7 linked regions of the Homo sapiens genome follow. The protein of the gene in region 2 interacts with the protein of the main gene of each other region in a pairwise test. Each region holds a gene or a part of one and is shown on either strand. Other genes may lie near its edges. The genes, in order: TBC1D2, MLH3, STX17, MAP2K1, SFRP2, CDK8 and ZNF510.

What was found.
Region 1: the proteins of MLH3 (region 2) and TBC1D2 interact in a two-hybrid assay, tested with the Homo sapiens proteins (one large-scale study listed by BioGRID and IntAct).
Region 3: the proteins of MLH3 (region 2) and STX17 interact in a two-hybrid assay, tested with the Homo sapiens proteins (one large-scale study listed by BioGRID and IntAct).
Region 4: the proteins of MLH3 (region 2) and MAP2K1 interact in a two-hybrid assay, tested with the Homo sapiens proteins (one large-scale study listed by BioGRID and IntAct).
Region 5: the proteins of MLH3 (region 2) and SFRP2 interact in a two-hybrid assay, tested with the Homo sapiens proteins (one large-scale study listed by BioGRID and IntAct).
Region 6: the proteins of MLH3 (region 2) and CDK8 interact in a two-hybrid assay, tested with the Homo sapiens proteins (one large-scale study listed by BioGRID and IntAct).
Region 7: the proteins of MLH3 (region 2) and ZNF510 interact in a two-hybrid assay, tested with the Homo sapiens proteins (one large-scale study listed by BioGRID and IntAct).

The regions. Positions count from the first base shown.
Region 1 is NC_000009.12:98,206,050-98,210,649, reverse strand, and holds part of TBC1D2 (TBC1 domain family member 2A), read left to right. Parts: intron 1-1,505; coding exon 1,506-1,982; intron 1,983-4,600. UniProt on the Homo sapiens protein: Acts as a GTPase-activating protein for RAB7A. Signal effector acting as a linker between RAC1 and RAB7A, leading to RAB7A inactivation and subsequent inhibition of cadherin degradation and reduced cell-cell adhesion.
Region 2 is NC_000014.9:75,030,595-75,034,492, forward strand, and holds part of MLH3 (DNA mismatch repair protein Mlh3), read right to left. Parts: intron 2,897-3,898; coding exon 2,825-2,896; intron 1,586-2,824; coding exon 1,474-1,585; intron 122-1,473; coding exon of another isoform or gene 109-121; coding exon 1-108. UniProt on the Homo sapiens protein: Probably involved in the repair of mismatches in DNA.
Region 3 is NC_000009.12:99,965,015-99,969,614, forward strand, and holds part of STX17 (syntaxin-17), read left to right. Parts: intron 1-2,638; coding exon 2,639-2,725; intron 2,726-3,419; coding exon 3,420-3,659; 3' UTR 3,660-4,600. UniProt on the Homo sapiens protein: SNAREs, soluble N-ethylmaleimide-sensitive factor-attachment protein receptors, are essential proteins for fusion of cellular membranes.
Region 4 is NC_000015.10:66,393,412-66,396,911, forward strand, and holds part of MAP2K1 (dual specificity mitogen-activated protein kinase kinase 1), read left to right. Parts: intron 1-3,500. UniProt on the Homo sapiens protein: Dual specificity protein kinase which acts as an essential component of the MAP kinase signal transduction pathway.
Region 5 is NC_000004.12:153,779,476-153,783,572, forward strand, and holds the end of SFRP2 (secreted frizzled-related protein 2 precursor), read right to left. Parts: intron 2,281-4,097; coding exon 1,976-2,280; 3' UTR 1,116-1,975; downstream 1-1,115. UniProt on the Homo sapiens protein: Soluble frizzled-related proteins (sFRPS) function as modulators of Wnt signaling through direct interaction with Wnts. They have a role in regulating cell growth and differentiation in specific cell types.
Region 6 is NC_000013.11:26,389,584-26,394,183, forward strand, and holds part of CDK8 (cyclin-dependent kinase 8), read left to right. Parts: intron 1-3,783; coding exon 3,784-3,927; intron 3,928-4,600.
Region 7 is NC_000009.12:96,771,133-96,775,732, forward strand, and holds part of ZNF510 (zinc finger protein 510), read right to left. Parts: intron 3,715-4,600; coding exon 3,656-3,714; intron 1-3,655. UniProt on the Homo sapiens protein: May be involved in transcriptional regulation.

The sequences.
Region 1 (4,600 bases), on a different chromosome or scaffold from region 2:
CTGGCGGCCCAGGAAGGGCTGGTCTATGTGAGCTGGCGGCTCCTCCCCAGCTGCCTTGCTGCCAGGTCCTGCCAACCATGTACAAGTCCTACACAGCACTACCTCCTCTGATCTTCACATGCATTAGTGTGCGGCTGCAGCTGAGATGGTTCACGCTCAGAGGAGGCAGCCCCCTGCCATGGCCCTATAGTACATTTGCGGCACAGGCTGCCTCCAGAGCCCCATGCTTTCCATTTATCTAGGCTGCCTCCCAAATGTGGCTGCCTCCCAGATGTGCCTGTCAGAGAGGGGACGAGGGGAGACAAGCAGGCCATCTCCTCTGCACCAAGGCCTTGCTGAGCACAGTGGACATGGGCAGTTAAATATAACAGAAAGGAGGGTGGCTATGCTCGAAGGCCCCTGGAGGCTGAGTAGTCCAGTGGCAGGAGCTCGAGCTTTGGAGCCAGCCCTGGCCCTCTCACCGTGTGACAATTCCCTTTACCTTTCTGAGCCTCGTACTCAGCCTCCATAAGATATGTGCAAAGAGCTGGGCACAGTGGCTCATGCCTGTAATTCCAGCACTTTGGGAGGCTGAGATGGGCAGATTGCTTGAGGCCAGGAGTTTGAGCCCAGCCTGGGCAATATATTGGAATCCTGTCTCTACAAAAAAAAAAAAAAAAGAAGAGTGGTGGTGCACGCCTGTAGTCCCAGCTACTCGGAAGGCTGAGGTGGGAGGATCACTTGAGCCCAGAAGGTAGAAGCTGCAATGAGCTGAGATTGCAGCACTGCAGTCCAGCCTGGGCAACAGAGTGAGGCCCTGAAAAGAAAAGAAAAGAAAGGAAGGGGGGAAGGGAGGGAAAGAAAGAAAGAAAAAGAAAGGAAGGAAGGAAGGAAGGAAGGAAGGAAGGAAGGAAAGGAAGGAAGGAAAGGAAAGAAGGAAGGAAGGAAGGAAAAAAAAAAGATTTAGGCAAACACACCTGCTTTGCAGGATCATTAGGATTAAATGAGATAGTGCAGGCAGGGCACAGAGTGGAGGTGAGTCAACATTGAATAAATCAAAGGCCTTCTGGAACGGGTCCCCAGCTGTCCCACCTGTCTGTCATTGGTGCTGTCTGTTCCCCGTCCACCCCTGCGCTTACTGGCTGTGGTAAGTGGGGTTCTGTATGCACAGTGCAGGACTCCTTGGGCCTAAGGCTGCATGGAGTAATAAGAGGGTCCTTTATATTTGCATAGAATTAGTAAATATCTCTTGGGCATTTACTGTGTACCAGGCACTATCTAGGCCCCCAGCATCTTACAACAGAGGATCTCGTTGGGTCTTTAGGAGGCAGAGCAGGGATTCCCATATGCATTATACAGATTCGCAATCTGAGGTTGGGAGAACTGAAGTGACCTGCCCAGAGCTGTGTGGTTAACCCTCAGTGAAGGCAGGGCAGGAACCTGGCCTGGGGTCCTCCCTGTCACCACCACCCCTTATCTAGGGAAGGGCTCTGCAAGGTGTTGCTAACGTGCACTTTTGCTGGCAGTAAGTATGATGAGTACGGCTTCCTGACGGTGCCCGACTATGAGGTGGAAGACCTGAAGCTGCTGGCCAAGATCCAGGCATTGGAGTCACGATCCCACCACCTGCTGGGCCTCGAGGCTGTGGATCGGCCGCTGAGGGAGCGCTGGGCTGCCCTGGGCGATCTTGTGCCCTCAGCCGAGCTCAAGCAGCTACTGCGGGCAGGAGTACCCCGTGAACACCGGCCTCGTGTCTGGAGGTGGCTGGTCCACCTCCGTGTCCAGCACCTGCACACTCCAGGCTGCTACCAGGAACTGCTGAGCCGGGGCCAGGCCCGCGAGCACCCTGCTGCCCGCCAGATTGAGCTGGACCTGAACCGGACCTTCCCCAACAACAAACACTTCACCTGCCCCACCTCCAGCTTCCCCGACAAGCTCCGCCGGGTGCTGCTGGCCTTCTCCTGGCAGAACCCCACCATCGGCTACTGCCAGGGCCTGAACAGGTAAGCCACCAAAGCCCAGTGAAGGTGTGATCTTTACCTTTTGGAGCGCAGGTCCCCAACCCTCAGACTGTGGACAGGCAGCCATCTGTGGCCTGTTAAGGGGCCGCACAGCAGGAGGTGAGCAGTGGGCGAGAGAGCATTACCACCTGAGCTCTGCCTCCTGTCAGATCAGCGGCAGCATTAGATTCTCACAGGAGCGTGAACCCTATTGTGAACTCTGCATGCGAGGGATCTAGGTTATGTGTTCCTTATGAGAATCTAATGCCTGATGATCTGAGGTGGAGCAGTTTCAAAGCCACCCCTCCCCTACCCCAGTCCATGGAAAAATTGTCTTTCATGAAACCGGTCCCTAGTGCCAAAAAGGTTGGGGACCGTTGTTTTAGAGCACTGCTGTCTCTCTTTGGAGCCTCCCAAGAACCTGAAGACATGAGCCTAGGTTCCCCACCCACAGGCTGGTGAGAGGACATGTTCAAGACAGAGATGGGCCAGAGCTCAGAGCTCCAGGCCCCTCGTCCCTGCTCTCTCCTTTGATTTGTGCTTGGGGACGTACAACTTACATGGCCTCTCAAACTTTGGCCTGCTGGAATCTACAGGGTAAGGCCCCACTCACATATGGCAGGACTCTCTGGATCAGGAATCATTCGCTTTCAGTGAAACCCATGCAGAAGACCCGGGGAAAAGAGACTTTCTAAATGTTACAAGGGGAGTTCACAGAAGCCAGGAAAAGAAAACACAGCTGAGGACCAGATGGTCATTGGAAGCCAAGGCAGCTGCTGTCTGCAGCAGGGCTGCACCCCTGCACAACCCCAGGGGGCAGCCTTCATGCCACAGTCCTGGGATGCCATGACCTGAGCTCGTATAGCACCAAGGTACTGCTCTGCTGCCCTCTGCAGCTGCATGGCCTCTGGCCTCTCTTCATTCTGCGTGTCTGCTTCCTTCTCTCTCAGCAGACCAGCCTCTGTCCATTCATTCATTGGACATTTAGGGACCATCGAAGCTGTTAGAATGGAGACCTCAGCCCCTGAGTCTTGAGCCTTTCAGTGAGTCTTCCCACCCCACCCCTCATGTTCCAGTTCTAAATTCCCCAAAGAAAAAATCTGATTGGCCCAGCCAGGAATAATTTCCACTTCTGGTCCAATTGGTAGGGGACGCAGGGAGGGACTGGGGTTAGGGGATGAGGTCACCTGGTTCACAGGGCTATCTCCCCTCCAAGACTGTGAGGGACTGTCATCCCCCCGCTCCAGCCCCAGCTATTTCAGTAGAAGCTGCATAGTTGCAAATATTTTCCCAAAGCAAGTTTTCACTCGATTTAATTTAAACACACATATACCTAAGCAAAATTTACATAAGCCATGCTGCTTTTTTTTAGAATAGGTGGTGTGTGACATTTATTTAACACAGAATCAACATTCAGTGTCCTTACTCAAATTTGAGTGGTTCCCAAAGGTAGATATTTTTCATACTCTATTTCCAGCCTAAAATTGGGTGAAATTGAGCATGTGTATGTACAATTCCTGGGAATTAAGAGTTAAACTCCAACAGTAATGCCTCTCAGTCGAAGCCTCCTTGGAAAATATGTTCAGATTTCATGCCACACTAAACGTCTGCCACAGGTCAGGTCTGTAGAAATTTCATTCATTCAACAGTCTGACAAAAGCCCCTGTACTTCTCATTTGTTTGAACATGTTAAAATCCAGAAGAAACAAAACCTGCAAAGCCTCTTCTAAGAATAGCTGTGAAGGGAGCTGGAAGCTATGAGATCAGAATGAATAATAATTTTTGCATTTCACACAAAAGCCAGGTAGGAAGTAAAGCATAATGGGGGCCTCTTGGATGCCAGGTGTTTAACACCTGATGGCATCTAATCCTCACAAAAACCTTCACTGGTGCCACCATGCCCAGATGAGACATGAGAGGGTCTGAGAGGCTGAGGAACCTGCCCGTTGTCTCACCACAAATGCTGACCCAGCCAACTGCTCACCCTGGCCCCCCGCCCCCAGCCCCCAAACCCAGTCCTTTCTACAACCTGCTCTCTCTCCAAATAGCAGTAGTCAGAGGCTGTGCTGAGGCCTCCCAGAAACCTTTCCCCTATGTGGATGTAACCTTCTCGAGACCTGCTTTTGGAGTTCAACCTGTGCTGAAGGGGCAGAGAAAAATCCTATGGCAGGAGGGGCACTTGAGATAAGCCTCATAGGAGGAGAGAAGCTTCTCCCTGTGTGGAAGGAGGCAGCACACAGGCCACAGAGAGGCGCAGAAGGGACAACTGAGGCCAAGAGAGGCGGAAGGTCCCCAGACGGGTTTTCTAAAATATCTTTCTCTGAATAGCATTTTTACTTAAATTTGATATGCAAATGCAGATAATTGGTATTCATGTAAATATTTACTGCTTAAAACAGAAAGTTACTTGTAATAGGCCAGGCACAGTGGCTCACGCCTGTAATCCCAGCACTTTGGGAGGCTGAGGCAGGCAGATCACGAGGTCAAAAGATCGAGACCATCCTGGCCAACATGGTGAAACCTTGTCTCTACTAAAAATACAACAATTAGCTGCCTCAGGAGGCTGAGGCAGGAGAATCACTTGAACCAGGGAGGCAGAGGTTGCAGTGAGCCGAGATCGC
Region 2 (3,898 bases):
TCTCTTTCCACAAAACATAGTGGTACTTTTCCCACAAGGACCAGAGAATCACTAGTGTCTGGAAATACAAATTCAAGGCCCAGATCTTCCAGATTTTTGTGGTAACACCTAAAGAGATAACCTCAAATGTTAAAAAAAAAAAGAGTGCTACTTCATTTGCACTTCACTACTGGTTCCAAATACTACTTAATAGTTTTTCAAAAGCTGCCACAGGGCTTAACAACCGTATTGTTTTTCTCACACTTATGTGTGGGTGTTTGGGATTTTTTATTATCAAATTTCCTTTTTGAATTACAGTAACCTTTATTGTTTTTCTCTTTTCCATTGGGAATCAATCTGTGTCTAAGTCTTGTTTCTAAGTGTGTTTTCTTCATTGAGGAACTGCTAACTTCTGGCTGCTGGCACTTAAGGGAGTCTGGCATGAAGAAAAGGTCTGAGAGTGATTTGAATCAGCATTAAAGCAGGGAGGTAATTAACAGCCCAAGGAATTGAGAAGTCCTGACTAACGGGATGTAAGTAAATAGATCTGCCTCTAATATAAATTATGTCATAGGGAAAAAAAGATTTACTGGCAGTATCATATTCCCAAACCTGAAACATATTGGGAGAAATTTCTTTTTCATTTTCAATAATTTGTGCTGCCTAGAAGAGGAAAAATATCCTATCTTGTGACTCACTATATGATTCGCCCCTTCCTTACATCCCAATGTTTTACTTTCTTCCCATTATGATTACGATAATGAAAACTAAGAGTCTAGAATGCACCAAAGCAAAGCAGAATGGGACCAATTACTGCAGAAACTTTGCTTTCACAAAGCATGGCATAAACACAGACTGTTCCAAGAAATGAGAAGAGTGTTCTAAGCCAACTGCTGGAAAAAATTATCAGGGAAACTCTATCCTATACTCTTCAGCTGGGATACAGTGGAAAGAATAGGCTGGGTCCAGTGGCTCACGCCTGTAATCCCAGCACTTTGGGAGGCCAAAGTGGGAGGATCGCTTGAGCCTAGGAGTTCAGACCAGCCTGGGTAACATGGCGAAAACCCATCTCTACCAAAAAATTACAAAAATTAGTCCAGCATGGTGGTGCTCACCTGTAGTTCCAGGTACTTGGGAGGCTGAAGTGGGAGGACTGCTTGAGCCTGGAAGGTGGAGGTTGCAGTGAGCAGAGATTGTGCCACTGCACTCCAGCCTGGACAACAGAGTGAGACCATGTCTCACAAAATAAATATTTTAATGGATGATTGGATGCAGAAAAAAATATATTTTAAAAAAGGAAACAAACAGCCTGTGGAGTCAGACGACCTGCCTTTGAGTGCCTGCTCCACTACTTAATAACTGCTATGACCTTAGACAAGTCTTGTAACCTCTCTTGGTCTCATCTGAGAAATGGAACAATAGTTATGCTTATTCCTCACAGAATTATTGTGAGAATTGATACCATCAACATCACATTCTCATGGTGGTACTGACCATAAGAGTCTCCTTTGTTCCTCTGTCACTGTTATCTCTAGCGGAGGAATTAGAGTAGAAGACAGTAATTTTTTCCGACCAGAGCCTTGTGCCTGTTGCTTCTCGTAGGAATCTATTGGCAGAAAGATGAATGGGTTAAGAGTAGGAAGGGAAGTCTTCTAGATTCAGATAAAAATAAAGCACGGCCTTGAGATAATCATTCTAATGCAAAGCAGAATGTTTAATGTTCAGTTTTAGATTTTGGATTTCCATTTTTAAAGTCAAACTAATAAATATTCAGCCTATTAACAATTTTGGTAGTATTTTTCAAAATAAGAAATATAAGACTTGCATCTTACATTCAGATGAACAAGCCAATGTTCCTGTAGTTAATAAATGTTGTTTTGATGACAGAGGTGAATAATGTGGATTACCAGGAACATATGTGGGTTGACCACACAGTCTTATGGCTCCAGAAGGCTTCCCTTTCCTTGAGCAGGGTCTCCCAGTCTCTGGAGAGAATTAGTACTATTCTCAAATGGTGCAGGGCCTGTAGAGGTAAGTTTTTCTAACACTGTTTTTACTATATCTTTCCCAACTCTTAGGCCGTCATTTTATAAGGAAAAGTGAAAACAGTAGTAATATCATTGCCATTCTAGTCCATGAAGCACTCCTTAGGTCCTTGCCTAACTCTTTGACATTACTCATTGGCCACAGGAGTAAAGACTTTCCTGGTATTTTACCACTTGGTGAACACACTGCCTCATGATGAGGAAAAGGGTAGCAAAAAAAAACATTTAAAAAGCATATATTGCTTTGGAAAGATAGATTTAAAAACCAGAGATATTGGTTGTCTCTGGGGAGAGAAACTAGGAGGGGTGGGGACAAGGATAGAAAGGAGACTTTATTATATTCCCTTTTGTGCCTTTCAGAATTGGATCTATTTGATTATACTGCATATTCAAAAGCAAACTAAATTTTAAAATCAAAACAGCATACTGGGCCTTCTGAGCTGCCACTGGTCTCTGCCTGATGGAGTGTGGGAAGGCATGCCAAGATCACCGGGCATATGGAGGGGCAGAGCTTTGTGCTGGATGTCAGAGTAAGCAGCCTATCCTTGCGTACTTCTGGGTTGTTAATAACATCTGGCAAATATGCCTCTGACCACATAAATAAGTTCACATCTTTCAATTAGTGAACTACCACATTCTTTCAATTATAACACAGGCCAAACTGCAGGACTTTAGTTTAATTTTTGAACATACAGTACAAAGTGTGCTTTCTCACAACAGTTGCAGTTAGAAAAGCTCTTTGAGGTGTACTGATTCTGCTGGGAGTCTCAAATTTTTTCTGGCTGCAAACAGATCCTTACCAATGATAAGCTGCTCCAGACGTATACGCTCATGGGCAGCGTGCTGATCCACCAGCACGAGCAGGTTCCCACCTAGATGAGCAAGGATTGTGAACTTTGATTCTCAGAGCAAGACGACAACCATCATGTGTGTTGAGGACAGAGAAGACTTAATTCAAACTATCTAACAACAGCATAAGACAAAACATTCTGAGGAGTAACAATTGTATCTTTTATTTCCTAAAACATGAAATTATGGGGAAAATGATAGCAAACTTATCCCATATGTTTGAATCCCAGATCCAATTCTGAAAGGCACAAAAGGGAATTTAATAAAGTCTCCTTTATACTCTTGCCCCCACCCCTTCTAGTTTCTCTCTCCAGAGATTACCAGTATTACTAATTTTTATCCTATAAGTTTTATTATTTTCCCCATAATTTCATTTTTTAGGAAACAAAAGGTAAACTAAGAAACTCTTTAGTTCACCAGCATCTCATTTAGAAAACATAGTCAGGGCTGGGTGCAGTGTCTCACACCTGTAATCCCAGCACACTGGGAGGCTGAGGCGGGCGGATCATGAGGTCAAGAAATCGAGATCATCCTGGCCAACATGGTGAAACCCTGTCTCTACTAAAAATACAAAAATTAGCTGGGTGTGGTGGCACGCGCCTGTAGTTCCAGCTACTTGGGAGGCTGAGGCAGGAGAATCGCTTGAACCCAGGAGGTGTAGGTTGCAGTGAGCCGAGATTGCACCACTGCACTCCAGCCTGGTGACAGAGTGAGACTCCATCTTAAAAAAAAAAAAAAAAGTCAAAGTGGCATTTCCTCAAGTTTGAAGCTTGAATATATAATTCTTATGTTTAAATACTGATTTTGCCTTATTAATTCAACTTTAATATGATAAAGGATCGTTAAACAACACATTGTTATAATCAGCTAACCTTGGTGTACAAGCTACTTGGAAACCCACAAAGAATGTACTTCCAGTGCACTTTAGATCACAAGCCGGAGAACGTTTTCTGAAGGGCCAGATCATAAATATTTTAGGCTTTTTGGGCCACACGATTTCTGTCATGCCTACTCAACAATTCTTT
Region 3 (4,600 bases), on a different chromosome or scaffold from region 2:
CTGCCCTCTGCCTTATTCCCACACCCCAGCCCCATATCTTAGCATGCTTTCTGATGGCATGAATAAATACTTATAGATGTGGGCTACTCCCCAGGGTGGGATGGGCCTCATCAAATGCTGGTGATTGCAATGATGGGGAACTTTGTAGTTCAAATAATTAGTGATCTCAGGATTGGTTTTTTGCCTGTGGTTGCTTCTTCAGTTATTCCAAATGATTTTTATGAAAAAATATTTAAATTATTTTAAAATTTTGCTTTAATTTTTAAAAAGTCATAGAAGTACAATATCCAACCCTTTTTAAAGGAAGGAACATTAGAAAGTATTTCCCTGAGGCTTTACGATTACACTTGGGGTATAGAAATGGCAATAATCCTGGCAGGCTCCTCCCTCTTGCTGGAATTATTTTGGGGCTGAAGGAAGGGAGACACTGACTATTTTTCCTCTACCTTTCAACTCATCAACATATGACGGCTGATGGTAGAGTTTTAAGCCTGTGATTTATCTGCTAGCATAGACTGTTTCAGGCAAGAGTGGAAAGTGTTGGGGGTGTCCTAAATAGAAACAATGATAGGGTGTCAGAAATCTAGACAAGTTGTATATTATTAGTGCTGGAACTTTTTCTTCTATGGGTCAGAAAAAGAAAGCTGACTTAAATAAGTTTTGCTATTGAGGAAAATAAAAATTGAATGATTGAATGAATGCTAAAAGATACCTGAAGTTTTAGTGTCCTAGAATTTTCAAGCACCGAAAGAAAAAGTTAAATATATTTTTTGATAGAGAGATGAGAGTTAACACTTCCTTGGGGAAATTAGGATAAATTTTTCTATTTTTCCCCCCTCACACTTTGCAAACACATTTTATCCCCACTTCAACTCTATGAAGGTATAAGTATCACTATTCTTACTTGATAAATGAGAATACCAACACCTAGAGAGCTTGAGTAATTTGTCTAAGAGCACATAGTGGCGTTTGCTGAGATTTGAACACAGATTATCTGACTAAAGGTGGTGCCCTTGATCTGAGCACATATAATAGTGGTTCTTAAAGTGTGAGAATTGTGGACTGGCAGCATCAGCATCACCTGGGAGCTTACTAGCTCAGGCTTCATCCCAGGCCTACTGGATCAGAAACTCCGGGGATTAGGCCCAGCAATCTGTGTTTTAAGAAGCCTCCAGGTGGAAGACTGAGAACCATTGTTAAAGTTGTCTCTCACAGAGACATTCAAAGGAAAACTGATAAGGGACTTTCTTAGGCATTGTTTTAGAGATGTCAAGATAGTGGTGGAGAATATTGGAATGAAGGGATACCACAATGGCGAAGATAGACATATTTTGTGTATGAGAAGGGAAGTAATATCAGTAATGCTAAGAGGAAACAAACATGGGGAAAAAGTAGCTGTGTGGTTTGGGCTTCATGTTTTCAAATGAAATAATGGTTGGAATTAGAAAAGTGTTGTATGTGTCTGCCTCAATATAAATGAATAGGCCAATTATATAAGGGCAATCAAACACTTCAGGATTAAAGTTGAATTATTTCACCCTCATTGCAGGTGGCATCTATCTAGGATCAAAGAGAGATTCTCTTTTTTCTGCACATTAAAAAAACAAAACCAAAATAGTCTGTAAACTGTGATGGTTGATTATATGTTGGCTTATACATTTGTTGTTTATACATTTGTGATAGTTGGTTTATACATTTGCTAAATTTCATCATACTATACCATTAAAAGCAGTACTTGTTATATGTAAATTCTATCTAAATAAAGTTGAATTAAAAATGGGAATGTGTTCCTACAGCAAGTAATGAGTTCGTGTCACTGGAGGTATCTGAGCAGAGGTTCAGTAACCACTTGTCAGGAATGTTACAGTAGGGCTTCGCACATCAGAGAGGAGATTGACCTGATGACCTCAACATTCCTTCTACCCAGAGATTCCATGAGTCACAGTTGCTGTTGTGCCAGCACAGGTGTTGCCATTTTATGTAGAATGCTTTATTAATATATTTGATCTGAAACATTTTAAACTGTCATGATTTTAAAATGTATTAAGATACACAGGTGTAAAGCACAGAACAGTGATTTCATTCACTGTTCCCTACTGCATATTACAAATGGAAAGATCTCATAATAGATCAAACCGTATTGTAGTCTTGTTCCTGAAACATAACAATTTGTATTTATTGGACCAAGGGCATTTTACTCCTAAGGTAAATGTGCCTGATTTAAACTGAATCCTCAAAGAAGGTAAGTTAGGGAGGTATTTTGGGGTTTGATTTTGTTGGGTTTTTTTTTTCCATCAAACCCAACATGACATGTAAATGCTTATTTGGATTTTTTTTTTCTGGAAAGTAGATTCATTTGGAGAATAATATGTTTGTATGTTTGAGTGAATTTTAGCGTGAGATGCTTTTTGCTGTAAAGTTGCCACCCTTTTATTACCTAATAATTAAGACCCCCCCCTTTTTTTTATGAAAGTTAATTTGTCCTTTCGACATGGCTTATCAGATGCTATTAATGAACCACTATTAAGATGGCAAGGCTGCAGTACCCAGGGCCCTGATTACAGGAATTAAAATAGTGTGTGTTGGCTCCCTGCTGCTCCCCAGCAGGACCGCTCACTCATAATTCCTTTGCATCTAGTCTCAGCAGGAGAAGATTGACAGCATTGCAGACCATGTCAACAGTGCTGCTGTGAATGTTGAAGAGGGAACCAAAAACTTAGGGAAGGTAAGATTCTGCTCCTGCTGACAAATCAATGGTACTCTGGCTCCCAGGAATCTCTAGTATTAACCCAATTGATCTGCTCTCTTCAATGTTGAGGGAACCAGCAATTAAGGAAATAAGGAAGAAATGACACATAGGTAGTGTAAGAAATCAATGTTGTAATATTCTACTCTAAGATTCATTCTATCAGGAGAGGAATTTCTTCAAAGAGAGAATAAACTGTAGCTCTGCTGTAAGGCATTTGGTGTTACCAGGGAATATTTGCAGAGGGTAAAAGTGTAAGTATGTGACAGCACACATGGAGTGGGACCATCTATTTTCCATAGGATGTTGCTTTTAACCCCAGGCACACAGCACTGAATAATTTCTGTGCAACATAAAAGCTTTGGGGGAAATCTGTGGCTGCCGAAACAGTTTAAATAAGCCAGCTAGATAGTTAGTGAATTGATTGTTTTGCAAGTAAAATCAATTTGTAGCAGTCCACTCTTTGTAGCTCAGCTCTCTAAGTTCTGAGATCTGGAGCAATTGCAGTACCTGTGGAATACTTTCTTTTCCCCCCTACAAGTACAGTCTCTAAGGTTAATTATGTACCAAGAGTTAAAGAGGCATTGCCAGGAGTAATGAGAGGAAAACGCACATCACCACAGGCAGATATTCTCAACTCAGTTTCTAAATTGAATTTTTTTTTTTTTTACAGGCTGCAAAATACAAGCTGGCAGCTCTGCCTGTGGCAGGTGCACTCATCGGGGGAATGGTAGGGGGTCCTATTGGCCTCCTTGCAGGCTTCAAAGTGGCAGGAATTGCAGCTGCACTTGGTGGTGGGGTGTTGGGCTTCACAGGTGGAAAATTGATACAAAGAAAGAAACAGAAAATGATGGAGAAGCTCACTTCCAGCTGTCCAGATCTTCCCAGCCAAACTGACAAGAAATGCAGTTAAAAACCAAATTTCAGTATTATTGGTGCCAACATGTCTATCCTGAGGACCTTTGCTGCTGTTGGACACTCCGTCACCTTTTGGAACACAAGTATATCAAGATAGTGGCTACTGATGTTCAAGTGGGATTGAAGTGTGATAAATGGATATATTTTGTTGTTTGCTGGGGTGTTCATGGAGATGTTAAGAGATTGAGGCCCTGGGCTGAGGGTATATAATGTATGTCAGGTAAAGTTTGAAGACTGCCAAGGAGCAGATTTTCTCCCTGGAAATGTGAAAACTGAACCTATAACTCTGATAAGGACTTGAGATGTGTAGAAACGTTGGGTTATGGAAGACTAGTTTCTTCCATAACCCTGAATTGGAGACCTTAATGCTAAGTGTAGATTATTGAGGTTTGTTAGTGAGGAAAAGAATAAGAGTTCAGAAGCCTTTGTTATCAGATAGCGAAATCAGGGCCTAGTGAGGAGCACAGGTCGACTACATAATGGAGTCCATTGGCGAACCCTATTGCAATTTGGTCCAACTATATCTTCTGGTGAAGGAAATTAATGATGTAAGAAAATGCAAGAGGCTCAACTTCTCTTCCAAAAATCTTCTGGCTTCTGAACTCTTCCTCTGCCTCTCTTTAAATAAATAACACAGAATTTCAAGTGGTAGGAGACTTATTAAGCCAGTCACCAAGCTTGGTCTGTCAGCCTGTCTTCTAACACCTCAAAGATCTTGTGCCCTGTGCTGTCCCTCCCTTGTAATTATGAAAAGTTCTTTGGTTTCTGGGGTGAATTCTACCCATGTATAATGAGGAATTCTCTCATAACCTTTTTTGTCTTGTCTGTCATCTCTGTTCATCCCTTCCTATAACCTCTAGGTAAAAAGAAAAGAAAAAAAGAAATTTCGAGATATTTTCAACATTGTTAGAGTTTGGGCTAAAATGAGCAAGGAGA
Region 4 (3,500 bases), on a different chromosome or scaffold from region 2:
GTGATCTGCCCTCCTTGGCCTCCCAAAGTGCTGGGATTACAGGTGTGAACCACCGCACCGGCTATTAATCTCTTTCTTTAAAACAATACCGTTAATCCAGTTGCAGTAGTGAGGCAGGGTACCTCTCAAGATCTCACTTTTTCTTTGACCTTGGGCAAGTCCTTTCTACTTTCTGACTCTTGGTTTCCTTAATCTGTAAAGTGGAGGTGATAATTGTTTACAAAATCTTTACCATGGTGGCCTACAAGGCCCTACCTGACCAGGTCCTTAGTTTTCTTCCAGTGTTCTCTTCACTCATGCACTCTAGCCACACTGTCCTTTGTGCTGTTGGGTTGTAGGTTGGGCACATTCTTATCTTAGAATCTTTGCATTTGCCATTCCTGCTGCCTGGAAAGCTTGTCTCTCAAATACCGTATGACTTGCTTCCTCACTTCCTTCACCCCTCTGTTGAAATGTCTCTTCACAGAGGCCATCTTTGATCACTGTAATACAGAACTCCCTGTCATTTTCTACCCTTTGATTTTGCCTTATTTTTCTTTGTAGCGCTGATCACTAACTGATGTTACATCGTGTATAAGTATTTATCTTCTTCTGCCACCCCAAGTGTAAGCTTCATGATGGTTGGGGCTTTGCCTTGTTCATTGCTCAGTGTGTAGAACAGATTCTGGCACATAGAAAATACTCAGTAGATACCTGTTGATTAAATGATTGACTAGATCCTACCTCAGAGGAATACCTTTGAAGATGTATAAAATTTCTTTGAAGGCTATAAGGTGCCGAATAACCTTAGGAGGGTTCACTGCTTGGCCTTAGTAGCGTTCATGATTTTGGATTTTGAATTGTTTCTATGTAACCCTGAAACACTCAGACTTACTTATTGCATTCAGGGTGTAGTTCATAGCATCAGCAGTTCTGCCAGGTTTGTAAGGAACACACATCTGTTAGAGTGTGAAGGCCCTGGAGGAAGAAAGGTTGAGACAGGTTGATGTGCTTTTTTTTGTCTCTTATGGCTCTTTCTGAGATGTGTACCATGATGATAACCAGGAACTTTTTTTTTTTTTTTTTTTTTGAGAGACAGGGTCTTGCTCAGACACTCAGGCTGGAGTGCATTGGTGCTCACTATAACCTTGAACTCCTGGGTTCAGGGAATCCTCCTGCTTCAGCCTCCTAAGTAGCTAGTACTACCGGCATGTACCACCATGCCTGGCTAATTTTAAAATTTAGAGATAGGGTCTTGCTGTATTGCCCAGGCTGGGCTCAAACTCCTTGCCTCATGCAATCCTCCCTCCTTGGCCTCCCAAAAGTGCTGGGTTTACAGGCATGAGCCACCATGTCTGGCCTGATAAGTAGGAGCTTTTGAAGTGGTTTCACACTGATTTTGTAGTTTTGAACTTGGATGCTTCTTTTGGGTAGTTGATGCAGTAACTAATACTGGTGCTGTCTTTCAGAACAGCTTCATGTGAAAAAGGCCTGCTTAAGCCTGTGTCTTTGGGAAGAACATCTCTGCCGCTGTTACAGCAGATACAGTAATAGCAAAGAAAGTCTTAAAGATGATTTAGCCCATGGCAAGGAAATATATGGGACTCTTGTTTGAATATAAACACTCACAGAATTCCAGTTTCACTTATTTATGCACCTTTCAAAGAAAGGAAGAAGATACTGTGGTAGAGTACAGTAGTCCTCCCTTATCTGAGTGGCATATGTTCCAAGACCCCTAGTGGATGCCTGAAACCACAGATATCAATAGTACCAAACCCTGCATATACTGTGTTTTTTCCTATGCAGTATATGCCTATGATGAAGTTTAATTTATAAATTAGGCATAGTAAGAGATTAACAATAATAACCAATAAAAAAGAATTATAACAATATATTGTAATGACAGTTACATGAATGTGGTTACTGTACTCACTGTGGGTAACTGGAATTGTCAAAGCAAAACTACATTTAAGTGGGTACTCCTGTAGCTGTTGGCCCTGCCTTGCCTATCTAGCTTAATTTTCCTCTGTTTTTCCGTTCACCTGCTGTGGTCCACTTACCACTTTCTTTACTCTCCTCACTGTGCCACCAGCATACTGTTGCTTACCTTCTTACATCTGTCTGGTCTTGCTGACATGGTTTTTTTTTTTGTCTGAAATGCCCTCCTCCACTTTCTTGCATGATTTTTTTTTTTTTTTTTTTGAGACGGAGTCTCACTCTGTCACCCAGGCTAGAGTGTGCAGTCACATGATCTTGGCTCACTGCAACCTCTGCCCACTGGGCTCAAGTGAGTATCGTGCCTCAGCCTCCCGAGTAGCTGGGATTACAGGCGCACACCACCACGCCGGGCTAATTCTTGTTATTTTTAGTAGAGACGGCGTCTCACCATGTTGCCCAGCCTGGTCTCGAACCCCTGACCTCAGGTGATCCACTGCCTCAGCCTCCCAAACTGCTGGGATTACAGGCGCCTGGCCCTCTTGCATGTTTTTATTTTTGTTTTATACTTGCCACTACACTTTAACTTCTGTGAAAACAGGGACTGTGATTGTCTTGTGTACTGGTATTTCTCCACCGTCTGCTGTGGGGCCTAGAATAAAATAAATGGTACCCATCTTTTTTGTTTTGTTTTGTTTTTGGAGATGAGTCTCACTCTGTCCCCAGACTGGAGTGCAGTGGCGCGATCTCGCCTCAGTGCAACCTATGCCTCCCGGGTTCAAGCGATTCTCCTGCCTCAGCCTCCCAAGTAGCTGGGCTACAGGTATGCGCCACCACATCTGGCTAATTTTTGTATTTTTAGTACAAAATTTAAAAATGATGGCCTCGATGTCGTGATCCGCCCTCCTCGGCCTCCCAAAGTGCTGGGATTACAGGTGTGAGTCACCGTGCCCGGCCCTTTTGTTTTTTTGAGATGGAGTTTCACTCTTCTCATCCAGGCTGGAGTGCAGTGGCATGATCTTGGCTCACGGCCACCTCCGCCTCCCACATTTTCCTGCCTCGGCCTCCCAAGTAGCTATGATAACAGGCACACACCACCATGGCCGGCTAATTTTTTTATTTTTAGTAGAGACAGGATTTCACCATGTTGGTCAGGCTGGTCTCGAACTCCTGACCTCAGGTGATATGCCTGCCTCAGCCCCACAAGGTGCTGGGATTACAGGCGTGAGACACCGTATCTGCCCCGGATGGTACCGATCTTTCAAGATCTTACATAAAGCTTATCTCCAATGTGTGTAGTCTTTTCTGAGCAACTCCATGCCATGCTCAGTTACATCACTCCCTACTTAGTTATAATAGTTCTTTTTTCTTTTTTTGAGACAGAGTTTTGCTCTTGTTGCCCAAGCTGGAGTGCAATGGCGTGATCTCGGCTCACTGCAACCTCTGCCTCCTGGGTTCAAGCGATTCTCCTGCCTCAGCCTCCCAAGTAGCTATGATTATAGGCGCACACCACCACTCCCAGCTAATTTTTGTATTTTTAGTAGAGGCAGGGTTTCACCATGTTGGCCAGGCTGGTCTTGAACTCC
Region 5 (4,097 bases), on a different chromosome or scaffold from region 2:
TATTTTATCTTTTATACCATATTTTTCCGTACCTTTTCTATATTTAGATATGTTTAGAAACACAAGTACTTACCATTGTGTTACAGTTGACTACAGTATTAAGTACAGTAACATGCTGTACAGGTCTGTAGCCTAGGAGCAATAGACTCTACTCTATAGCCTAGATGTGTAGTAGGCTATACCATCTAGGACTGTGTGTGTACACTCTACGATGTTCACTGAATGACAAAATGGTTTCACAATGTGTTTCTCAGAACACTCCCCTGTTTTTAAGTGAAACATGACTATATATGACAAGAGGCAGACATTTGGGTGATGCCAGAGCTGCTAACTCCTCAAAACATGACCAAAGGTTGAGCCCCATGAATAGGATTAGTGCCCTTTTAAAATAGGCTAGAGGGAGTTTGTTCACCCTTTCTGCCACGTGAGGACACAGCAAGAAGGCACCATCTGTGAAGCAGAAAGCCCTCATTAGACACCAAAATCTGCCGCCACCTTGATCTTGGACTTTGCAGCCTCTGGAACTGTCAGAAGTAAATTTCTGTTGTTTATAAACTACCCAGTATATGGTATTTTGTTATAGCAGTTGGAAAGGACTAAGAGACATTTAATGGACAGATGTCTGTCTCTCCTTTTTTACCCTAGTTCAAGTTTTCACCATCCCCTTCCTCCTCCTTGCATTCCAGTGGATACTCTCCAAATCATGGCTCTCTCTATCTGAGGGTTAGATTTGAGTCGGGGAAGGAATTAACATTTTTGCAGTGGTGATTCTTTTTCGGTATGAAAAATCTCAGGAAATGAAAAGCACAACTGTAAAGCTCATAAACCTTAAGTTTAGGGTAATGTTTCCACATAGCTGCAGCTGGACTGCTCAGAAGGGTCAAAAGAAGGCAACCCCTTTCTAGAGGCTGCAAGTCGCTGCTTCCACAGGGTGAAAGTGGTGAAATCTGTGAGATGTGGGGCATGGTGGTGGAGGGGGAGACACTTTCTGAGTCACTTGAGAAGTAGATCACTTTAAACTGCTGGAGGGCTGGGCTCATGGAAGGAAGTGACCACCCATACATAGCTCCATTCCCAGTTCCTTTTACTAAGAAGACAAGACAGAAGACAAAGAATAGGTAAAACAGGATGTAAAGTTTATATACAAGAATATAATGTTTATCTGAAATATTTACAGTGTTGGTTAAAGCAATATTTTTACAACTTTTAAAGGTAAACTACTATGTATATTACAGGTAAGCTACAATGGGTTTAATTTGCAAAAGTTAAGTAAGAAATGTTTTAAACAAGGCTTAAAGTACTCAAGTCAATTATAAAATTTATATCTTTTGCCTTTTACTTGAAGAAATCATGCTATAGAAATGGTTAATGTGCTTCTAATAAATGGAAGTATTGTAGCTGGAATGTGATACATGTAACAGTTTAAGTTCCCATTGAAGGTATAAAATGATGAATTGTTGTAAGACTTAGACACTGAGTCTCAGTCTGGAGCTGATGAAGATGTTGAGATAACAGCCAGCTTTATCTCAACAGGGTTTGTGACCCACAAGTTTGGGCCACAGAGAAAATTGAAGCAATTTGCATGTTATGACAACCTCAGTGGGAAGTGAAAATCAGCTGACTCAAAACAACAAACAACAACCAACCAGACCCAAGTCACAGTTGCACCTATTCAAAACTAGCTTTAAAGTGAGCTATTTTTAAACTTCATAAAAATATTCATGATTTTATTAGTTTGAATATTTCTACAAGATTCGGGTGGGCTTTTCCTTTAGGTGAAAACAGCTATCCACTCCTGTGGCCTTATAACTCAGGAAATGCTGGGGATGCAAACGTGCAAAAGGCAGGGGGAAGCTGCCCAGGCTGAGACTGGAGCAGCTAGGAGTGTGCTTGGGGAACGGGAGCTGAGATCCCGGAGCAGAAATGGTCAGCCGTGCTCTGGAGCAGGCCTGTCGGAGCCATCAGGATGCCGGGACTAGCACTGCAGCTTGCGGATGCTGCGGGAGATGCGCTTGAACTCTCTCTGCCCCTTCTGCCACCGCTTCACCGAGGTGATCACCAGCTCCCCACCCTGTTTCTGTCCCATGACCAGATAGGGCGCGTTGATGTCGTTCATCTCCTCACAGGTGCACTGCAAGCTGTCTTTGAGCCACAGCACCGATTTCTTCAGGTCCCTTTCGGACACACCGTTCAGCTTGTAAATGGTCTTGCTCTTGGTCTCCAGGATGATTTTGGTATCTCGGTTGATGTAGGTTATCTCCTTCACTTTTATTTTCAGTGCTATGAGGGAGGGCAGAAAGAGTCATGCCAGTTATAATGAGGGAATACAGTATACCTCCCCCCATTCTGCCAACTCGTGTGACTTGGCCTGGATGAGGAAAGAGAGGCTTCCTAGAGCTAATGGGACCCTCAGAGGCTGCAGATCGGGGGTTGGGAGCTAGGGGCAGCAGGTGGCTCCACTGCTAAAGCCTCAAAGCATTTGCCAGGCACTTGGTTTCCAATCAGCCATTTTTTCAAAACTCTCTCTTTGCGGGACTCAATTAACTTTTCTTCTCCTTTCCTCACTCACCCTTGTGTTTGTAAGAAAGTTGCATGTGGTGTGTGCTCTCTCCAACAAATGACTTCCTCTGTTGGAAACTTAAGCATGAAAAGAAATGCCTGACTTTTAGGTGAAATATGATCCCTCTGTGGCCGTAAAGTTTAAACTCAATTTATTATGCAAGAGGTTTTTGGACAAACCTGTAAGGAAACTGTGTCACGCAATCATTGTTTTCTAAAGATCAGATTACAGGGAAGGAGAATTGATCTTACAGCTGCATTTGATTTGGTAAAGCAGGAGAAACAATATGCAAGTCTCTTTTTAACAGCACAACGTGGTTAGTCATAAAAGTGTTTTTCTGAAGACCTCATCCTTATATGCTCTCATTTGCCAGTCCAAGGCCAAGGCGTTTACGGATCATATATGTACTGTTTCCAAAATGTATATGTAGACTCGTTAGAATGCGAAGACCAAAAGTAAGTGGTTTACTATAAAGGACACGTTTTATAGTCATGAACAGTATGCTCTGGGAAAGAAAGCCCTACAAACGTGTATGCTGGAATTAAATTTCAAGACTCCATGAAAGCAGGAAAAGAATAGAATTTTAAGGTTAGAAGGGATCATCCCATTAAAATTGCTTGTTAATACACAAAGAATCTTAAATCCAGAGAAGTTTAGTGACTTGCATGAGGTCACCCAGTTTAGGTTGTTTGCTAGAACTCCAGTTGCCAAACCTCCTCCTGTAATACCACTGTGGTGTCTTGAGGCAATGTCCATGTTTTTGTAGTGGTTGCAGCATAAACTTGCCCAGCTGCAATGTGTCCTAAGACCCTGTGTGCCCCTGACAGCTATTCTGTATAGATGATGTGTAAGTATGACTTCCTGACTTTGATGGAGTTTAATCTATGTTTAAATTAGTAATAGAGGAAGATTTTTCTGTGTTGCGTACAACTGTTTTTGAGATTTTCTTTTTTTTTTTTTTAAATATCAGAATGGGAATTTGACTGAGTATGGCTTTCTAGTCAACCAGGAAATTATAGAATCTCTAGCAGGTAAATCAAAAATGCTATGACTTGGCCAACCATGGTTTTGTCTGGTATGATATGCATCTGAACTGTGGTACTGAATTCTCAGTTTTTGAGACTCAAGTCGTGGAATAAGCCATACTTGTGGAAATGTTTCATGCTTTTGTGTCCTCTGCATTGGGAGTAGGGTGTTGGATAGACCTCACCATGGTGGGAGAAATGGACTGATTACACTTTACCTGGGAGCCTTGTCTGTAGTACAGGTAGGGCATATATAAGATTTCACCTGGCCAAATGAAACATTCTCAAGCTCCAAACATCAGAAAAAACCATCACTTTTAACCAGGAGGAAGATTTTTTAGTCATCTTTGTCTAGCTCTAAAATAACTAATTTTGCAAATGTTTATCATGAGAAAACATTAGGGATTTTCTCCCTGGATTTTCAGCTAGGCCCAAACAGAGAGAATTGAATCCCCCACATAACCTTTCCTGTCCTGGAGGATGTGACTGAGGATGCAGGATGTGATCGCAGG
Region 6 (4,600 bases), on a different chromosome or scaffold from region 2:
CAACCCACACCGTCGTCTGGTGTACACCTGCTTGCCCAAGATCAGTCTTGGGGAACACTTTCTTCTATTGAAACATTGATTCAAAATTTATAATATACACAAACCACTTTCAATTTAAGTTTCTAAAAATAAGGTCAGGCACGGTGGCTCACACCTGTAATCCCAGCACTTTGGGAGGCCAAGGTGGGCAGATCACTTGAGGTCAGGGGTTCGAGACCACCCTCACCAACATGGTGAAACTCCGTCTCTACTAAAAATACAAAAATTAGCCAGGCATGGTGGCGGGCACCTGTAATCCCAGCTGCTCAGGAAGCTGAGGCAGGAGAATTGCTTGAACCTGAGAGGCGGAGGTTGCAGTGAGCAGAGATCACGCTACTGCACTTCAGCCTGGGTGGCAGAGCTAGGCTCTGACTCATAAAAAGTAAAAATAAAATAAAAATAAGAAGGAATTACAAAATGGAACCTTTTCTTTAATACCAGCCTCTACCACACAATCCCATTCCTCCTGTCTCCTGCAGAGGTAGCCTAAAGATTAAAATACTCAACAAATTTCTCACACCACCATTAAAGCTGCTTACCAAGAACTTCCCCAGCATTTTGACTTCCTTGTTTGATAGCTGAATTGTGAGCAGGTGATAGAAGAGCCTTTCTAGTTGAACATACAGATAATTTGCTGAATACATTCCATTTAATGAAGGGGTTACATCTGTTACGAAGCTACTAAGAAGGAGCAAAAGCATAGGGAAAAAAATCTGATCAGAACGCATCAAACTCACATATGCCCCATCTACTACAAACAGATTGTAGTGCTGTGCTGGTTTATTCCGTTGTGCAGAACTGCAAGCTGAGTCACTAAACCAAAGAGAGGAAATAATAGGTTAGTAAACATTGTAATCCCAGGAACTAAGTTTAATTCACTTTTGAGTGTTTTGTTTTTTATTTTTGTTTGTCTGATTTACTTTGGGGAAAAGGCTAAAAAAAGGGATATCAATCTCTAATTCAGTGCCACTAAAGTAGTCCTAAAAGTCTTACTGAAGTATGGACTTTTAAGCTCAGGTGTTTGTCCTCAAATAGCTGCATGGCCACTAAATGTGAGGCATTCTGCTAAGTGGGAAATACACATTAAAATAGAGAAAATGAGAATTTCTTCCCTTTTATCAAAACAAGAAGCTTGCTATTACTACACTTGTTGATTCAAATATTATTGAGCAAAGTCTTTTCTCCTCCCAAATTTGGTCTGTATAGCATGCCAATTCCTACTATTTCCTTTGCCTGGTTAGCTCAGTAGCTACCTATAAGCATCACACATTTTGAGAAGTAGATGAAACTTATATGTTTTTAATTTGGAAAGCCATTTTATAAGGAGTTTGGCAGGCAGGTGAACACTAAAGAGACTTTCCATGAATTGGGCACAATCTAAAAAAAAAAAAAAAACAAGGTAGGAAAAAGAAACTTATTTACAATAATTAGAAATTTATCTGCAATAATAGCCTGATCAGCTGACTCAGAGTTAATGATTAATGTATGGGTCAGGATTTTGAAGAAAGGAAGAATGGTAAAATTGACAAAGGTGAGAGAGAATAGCAGTTATAAAGACAGAAGAGTTACTAGATGGGAGGGAGTTAAGCAAGGTTCAATAAGTTATTTTTCCTGTTGACTGGACTTTTTCTTTAAAAAGCAGTGTAGCTTTGCATACATTTTTTCTGTGAAATAGGGTCTTGCTATGTTGTCAAGGCTGGATTCAAACTCCTGGGCTCAAGCGATCCTCCCGCCTCAGCCTCCTGAGTAGCTGGGACTACAGGCATATGCCAGTATGCTCAGCTAAGAGCAGTGTAGCTTTAATTATAGCTAAACTACTTACCTTTCATCTTCCTTTACATATTTTATTTTCTTCTTTGGAATTTTTAATAACTAACCAGATGAATTGTTACAGTGTTTATTGGGTGTGCTGTAAGTAGAATTTTAAACATGCAAAGCCATCCATCATCCCTTTTTGTGATCCTACTTAGCTGCCTATGTGGCCATTGATTATCAAAGGTTAGATTTATAGGGTATACCCATATAAAAAGAATAATCACAAAATAATTAATTTTCCCATATACCTTTCGATGACAAAAACAAAATAGGTTGGCCTATGTTTCTTGATGAGACTTTTCCATATGATGGTATTGGCTAGGCTTGGTTCTCTGATATGTAAATACGATGTCATTTTTTAAAATCACTTGCTGCAGTCAGTGTGAATCTTTAAGTAAATAGGTGATTAACTTGTTACTTTGAAATGTAAATATGTGAAATTTTAGATTAAATTAAATATCTCTATTCCAGTTTTGGAATTTAGGAATTCTCATTTTAGGTTTTTTCTTATTTCCTGTTTAAGTGACAGTTATTAACATATCTGAACAATCAGCTTTGATAAAATAGTAATTTTGATTTGTTCCCTTTGGTTATTTATATTTGTCACAGGTATTGGTTAAGTCAGTCAAAAACCATGTGTTGAGGGTCTGCTATATGCACACCATTGTACTTAGTTTAGGATTTGTTAAGAGTAGAAATGAAATATTTTCAGCTTTAAATTCTAAATTGGCAAATAGATCTTACCTCTACTAATAGTTCTTTTGAGTACAAATTTAATTTGAATGAAAGTAAATCTGTATCTTGTGAATGAAAGGAATTTACTTTGTTGTGTACAGAGAAACCCATTTGCCTGGCTTTTGTCAATAATTCATTTGAATTTATAACCCTTTTTTTTTTTTTTTTTTTTTGAGACGGAGTCTTGCTCTGTCGCCCAGGCAAGAGTGCAGTGGCGCGATCTCGGCTCACTGCAGCCTCTGCCTCCCGGGTTCAAGCAATTCTCCTGCCTCAGCCTCCTGAGTAGCTGGGACTATAGCCGCGTGCCGCCATGCCCAGCTAATTTTTGTATTTTTAGTAGAGACAGGATTTAACTATGTTGGCCAGGCTGGTCTTGATTTCCTGACCTCGTGATCCGTCCTCCTCAGCCTCCCAACATGCTGGGATTATAGGCATGAGCCACCACACCCGGCCGAATTTATAATCCATGTTAACAGTAATATTTTGCTTTTGCTTCCTGTCCTTTGCATTAAATACTTAAATTTGCAAAATCTGATACTGCTTATGGCATCAAGAACCACTTTGGAAAAAAAACTTTGTTAAAGTAGAAATGCTGTTAATTCTTAGGCGTTTTGAGGTCGGACATTGTCTCTTGGTGGAATACCACCTTACTGATTAGTGCTAACATGAGAGGGTAATTATTAGACCTTGCAAATTAGCAAGTAAATAAAATAAAAAATATTTTATCACAAAAATTTACACTGATTATGTTAGGCGAGTGCCCAATTTCAAATACTGTTTGGGTTTTCCGTTTGTTTTTGTTTAGTTTTCTTTGGTTGTAGTTCCCATGCTCCATATGCAGCTTTACTGTAGTTCACAGAAAAGGTATCACCTGGACATTGAAAACTCACCAAAATCCAGCCAGTACATTTAATTGGGCTTAGAGTGAAACCATTTGGGTGGTATGGAGGTATACAGAATGAAAAATCGGGGTGGAGGGCATGGGAATATATACTTATAATAATGTTTCATGGTATTTAGTAATTATAATTGCTTAGGAATTAATATGAGTTATTAGGGAAAGAAAGAAAAAAACACTCCCCAAGAAAATAAAATTGCATTTTCTTTTGGAAAGAACCACTTTATTTTGCACCTTTCTTTTTCTTTTTTCCTTGCCTATTTTTCTTTCTTTTTTTTTTTCTTTTTGTTTTAAAGATATTTGGGCTATAGGGTGTATATTTGCAGAACTACTAACGTCAGAACCAATATTTCACTGTCGACAAGAGGACATCAAAACTAGTAATCCTTATCACCATGACCAGCTGGACAGAATATTCAATGTAATGGGATTTCCTGCAGGTACACATTATTCGTTTTTGTTTTTGTTTTTAAATCACTGTTGTTTGAACTTAGATGTCTTCGTTGGAGAGGTATATATTTTTAGCTGATGGAAGCTACTTTTACTTGAGTCTTTGTTTTTTGACTTGCATTTATCAAAGATCCGTAGAAACAGCAAAATTTGTAGAGTTTACATATTGGCATGGAAATATTTATGGGTTTCCTGAATTTCAGGACTGTATTTTTGTTTCATCTTGTTTTACTTTTTTGTTTTGTTATTTGGTATTTGAAATGATAAAATATGTTCAATATCTGTATTAAAAAGGTACCTTTAGCTCTTACCAGTAGAAACTATAAATGAATTCAGTAGTAGGAATTTTTTTCTGGCAGCACATATAATACTGCCACTATTTGGCATTCAAATATAAATTTTGAACCTTATTTCTATTTAGGGCACTATACAGAATCACATTATATTGAATAATAGCATTTAAGTCTTCTCTTAGAACAGTCACAATGTGGGTGAGAGTCATAGTACCCTATGGTGAGTTAGCCTGCTGTTTTGCAACAGAGAGATGGTTTACATGTATCCTATCCCTGGTATTAGATCTCTCCAACTGTATCTCAATCCCTAGTTATATTACAGAACGGTAATCACCAAAAACTGCTCAGAGGTCCAGAATAATGAGAATTT
Region 7 (4,600 bases), on a different chromosome or scaffold from region 2:
TTTGAGAATATAATGTTGACGCCAAAACGTGACATGACATGACAGAAAAACTGCAAGCCAGTATCTTTCCATTAATGTAGACACAAAAATATTAATTGAAATATTAACAAATTGAATCCAGAAATAACTTAAAGTGATAGCACTACCTTATGTGGGAATTATCCCAGGAATGCAAGGTTGGTTAAACATTGATAAATCTATCAATATAATTCAGCTCTTTAACAGACTAAAGGAATAAAATAATATGATTATCTCACTAGAAGCAAGAATAGCCATCTGACAAAATACTCATGCATGATTAAAAAAAAAAAAACTCAGGAAACTAAAAATAAAAAAGGGAACTTCCTTATTCTAATTAAGGACATATACAAAAAACATGTAGTTAAAATAAGACTCAATGGTGAAATACTGAGTACCCCTCAGGTGAGGTATAAGACAAGGATTTCTATTATCACCATTTGTACTAAACATTTTACTGGAAGTCCTAGCAGTAAGGCTAAAAAGAAATTAAAGATATAAAAACTGTAAAGGAAGAAGTAAAATTGTCTTTATTGCAAAAAAAATTTTGCACATTTAAAATCCAAAAGAATCCACAGATAAGCTATTAGAATGAGTGAATTTTGTAAAATGCCTAGGTATAAGATCAATACTAAAAAAATCCATCGTATTTTAATAAACTAACAATAAACTGGAAAATGACATTTAAAATGCAGTATCATTTGTGCTATTATCAAAATAGATCAAATACCTAGGAATAAATATAATAAAAGATGTGAAAGACTTCACCTCTACTCTGAAAAACTTTCCATCAGGATTTTCTGTGAAAATTGATAAAACTTCCATGAACATGAAAAGGACCTAAAATAGTAAATAAATTCACAAAATTTGTGACTTACTATAAAGCAACAGTAATTATGACAGTGAAGTACTAGCAAAAAGATAAACTAATTGGACCAAAGGAAGAAAATATACAGTCTACATTAGACCCGCATACAAGTCACTTGACTGACAAAAAACAGCTGCAATTCAGTTGACAGAAGATGGTCTTTCTAACAAATGGTGCTAGAGCAACTGGATATCCGTATGGAAATATGAACCTTGACACTCACCTTATACCAAACACAAAAGCTAACTCTATGTAGATCAAGCTAAAATAAACAAGTATGTAGTAACAATATAGGAGAATATCTGATCTTAAGAGTAGGGAAAGAGCTTTCAAATATGATACACAAGGAACTGCCATTAAAGAAAAGACGATCTGACCTTTATTAAATGTAAAAACTTTGTTGTCAAATATATTATTTAAAAAATGAATAAGCAAGCCATGGAATCCAAGAACATCAGTAATGCACACATGGCAAAAAACATTTACTGAAAATATTGAAATAATTCCTACTTAAAAAAAGCAAATAACCCAATTAAAACAGAGTTGAATAGGTACTTTATATATTACATAAAAAGAAATGATGTCTAAATGTCCAAAACACAAACAATGGTGCCCAACATTAGTATTTACCATAGAAAAGCAAATTATAAATTTTGATAAGATACCACACTATACAGCCACCAAAATGGCTAAAAACAAAAAGATTGATAATAACAAGTGTTGCTCAGAATCTGGTACAGCCAGAATGCTAGTGGGAATGTAAACTGATTTGACCACTTAGGCAAGCTACTTGCAGTATGTATTAAAACTGAACATATGTTTATTCTATGAACCAGCAATTCCATTTCTAAGTATATCCCAAAAGCAATGAGGACATACCCAAAGACACAAAAGAATATTCACAGCAGCCTTATTCCTGATAGCCTCAAACAGGAAAAACAAATGAAAAAATGCACTAAGAGGAGAATGAGGAAATAAATTATGGTCTATTCATACAATGAAATACAGCCCAGTGATAAAAGGGAAATATTAAGATACAGAGCAAAACATTCCCTTGAAAACTGTAAAAGAATACACTTTGTATGATTCTACTGGTATCATATTCAAAAATGAATTTATCTTTTTTCCCTAACATATGAGGTCAGAATTGTGGTTGCCCTGTAGAGGGGAGCAGTGGTGTTATCTTAATCTGGGTACTAAATTACATGAATTTACATATGTAAAAATCCATCCAGTTACACACTTCAGAGTACACTTTACTGGTATTAAAACTGCATCTCAGTTAAAGAACTAAGTTTTTAAAAGGAAAAAAGAGTGCATACAAGAGAAACAAAAATTTAGCAAAATATATATAGTTGGTAATTTGGGAAGGTGGGAACATATTTATTATATTATTTCTTTGTATCTTTCTATATTTGAACAATTTCTCAATTCCTTACAGGAAAAGAAAATTTGGACATAGACTCATACAGAGGAAAGATGATGTGAGGACAGACATCTAAGCCACGGAGCAAGGCCCTTCCCTCACAGCTCTCAGAAGGAACCAAACCTGTTGACATCTGTTTTTTTTTTTTTGAGATGGAGTCTAGCTCTGTCGCCCAGGCTGGAGTGCAGTAGCACGATCTCAGCTCACTGCAGCCTCCGCCTCCCAGGTTCAAGCAATTCTCCTGCCTCAGCCTCCCGAGTAGCTGGGATTACAGGCACCCGCCACCACGCCCGGCTAATTTTTATATTTTTAGTAGAGACAGGGTTTCACCACGTTGGCCAGGCTGGTCTCGAACTCCTGACTTCAAGTGATCTGCTCTCCTTGGCCTCCCAAAGTGCTGGGATCACAGGCGTGAGCCACTGCACCCGGCCCCTGTTGACATCTTGATCTCAGACTTCACCCGGCCCCCGATGACATCTTGATCTCAGACTTCTGGTCTCCAGAATGGTGGGAAAATAAATTGCTGTTTAATCTACCCAGTCTGTGGTTCTTTATTATAGCAGCCCTAGCAAACTAATACTAAGGCTCTAACCTTTATCTCCCTCCCCTCTCTTATTATTCCCTAAGAGGAAGTCCAAACTGCAATAGGCAAAGATTCTTAATGGACCTTGCATGCCTTGTTTAGCCTGCTCTCAAAATGCAGTAATCTCCTGTACTGCAACAATGAAAACCTTACCCATTTTTCAGGACAAAATCCTTTTAAACTCTCCACCTCTGATCAACAGAGCCTACACCATCGATCTCTCCTTTCTTTGACAGTCTGTCTACCTGAACGTCTGTTTCCATTACCTGAAAAACTGTATTAATAATAAAACTGAAAAACTGTATTAATAAAAGCCTGAGTTTGGCACTAAGCCGTCTACTTCCACTGAGGAAAAAGCAGAAGCAACATACTGCATTTATTTCAAGGCTGTTATGAGAAAGATTTGCACTGACACATGAAGACCAACAAAGACATTTTCCCTGACTTTGATAACTTTAGATTCCATGAGGAATCAGCCTGGTTTTAAGCTTCTCATCAATGCAAATCTGTAAAAAAAATACTGTCTGTCTGGCTCTCTGCCATGGCTATCAGAAAGAATGAAAACTGCAGTTCCATTTTGGAAAATCTGTAACATCAGGCGACCTCCATCTTTCCACATGCCAATTCTGCTGTGCTACTGCCCTGCTTTTCTATATATTCCTTGAATGATTTTGATCCATTTCTACATTTCCATATTAATATGTGGACCCTTAAACACCTATGAAATCCATGATGAAAAAGGTATTAGTAATTAACTCACCTGAGATATGTTCATTTTCTGCTGCTCCTGAAAGAGTGTGGAGAACCGTAAAGGATAACCTGGGGGTGAGGAAGGAGTCATGAGAGATCTGGGCAGCCTCCATCTTACCTGCCTACCAATGTCATCACACCAGCTGGGGAAAAAGGCCTCTCTACAAAAAATGTTCCTTTGACCTTTGAGAAGGGACAAGCAGCACTACAGAGAAAGCACCTCCTGAATATGTGCATCTTTAATATGATCATGTGGATGAACCCTTGCTGTGTGTGTGTGTTTTTTTGTTTTTTTTTTTTGAGACAGGATCTGGCTCTGTTGCCCAGGCTGGAGTGCAGCGGTGTGATCTCAGTTCACTGCAACTTCTGCCTCCTGGGTTCATGCAATTCTCCCGTCTCAGCCTCCTGAGTTGCTGGGACCAAAGGCACCCACCACTACACCCAGCTAATTTTTGTATTTTTTGTAGAAATGGGGTTTCACCATGTAGCTTAGGCTGGTCTCGAACTCCTGACCTCAAGCAATCTGCCCGCCTTGGCCTCCCAAAATGCTGGGATTGCAGGGGTGAGCCACCAGGCCTGGCCCCTTGCTGTTTTTCATCAGGCGATTGTAGACTATTTTCCTATTGATTTATTTAAAATGTATGTCTTCTTTGACTAACAACTTAAACAGAATTAACATTAATATTCTGTTAATATTATTTACACCAATAGAAAACACAAAACTGAAAAAAAGGAGATGCTGAAAGACTATTTTAAAATATTTTTGTTCTAACTTATAGTTTCTCAAAAGACTTTCGATAAGACACTTCTGGTGACTCACCTGTGACAGAGTGAACAGCACTGTGCTTTGCTCCAAGCTCTGTCCTGAGTGACCATGGACAAACTGTTCATCCTAGGTTCAATACTTTTTAAGGTTTTAAGAGTCAGAAATAGAAATCCTTTCCTGTATTATCAT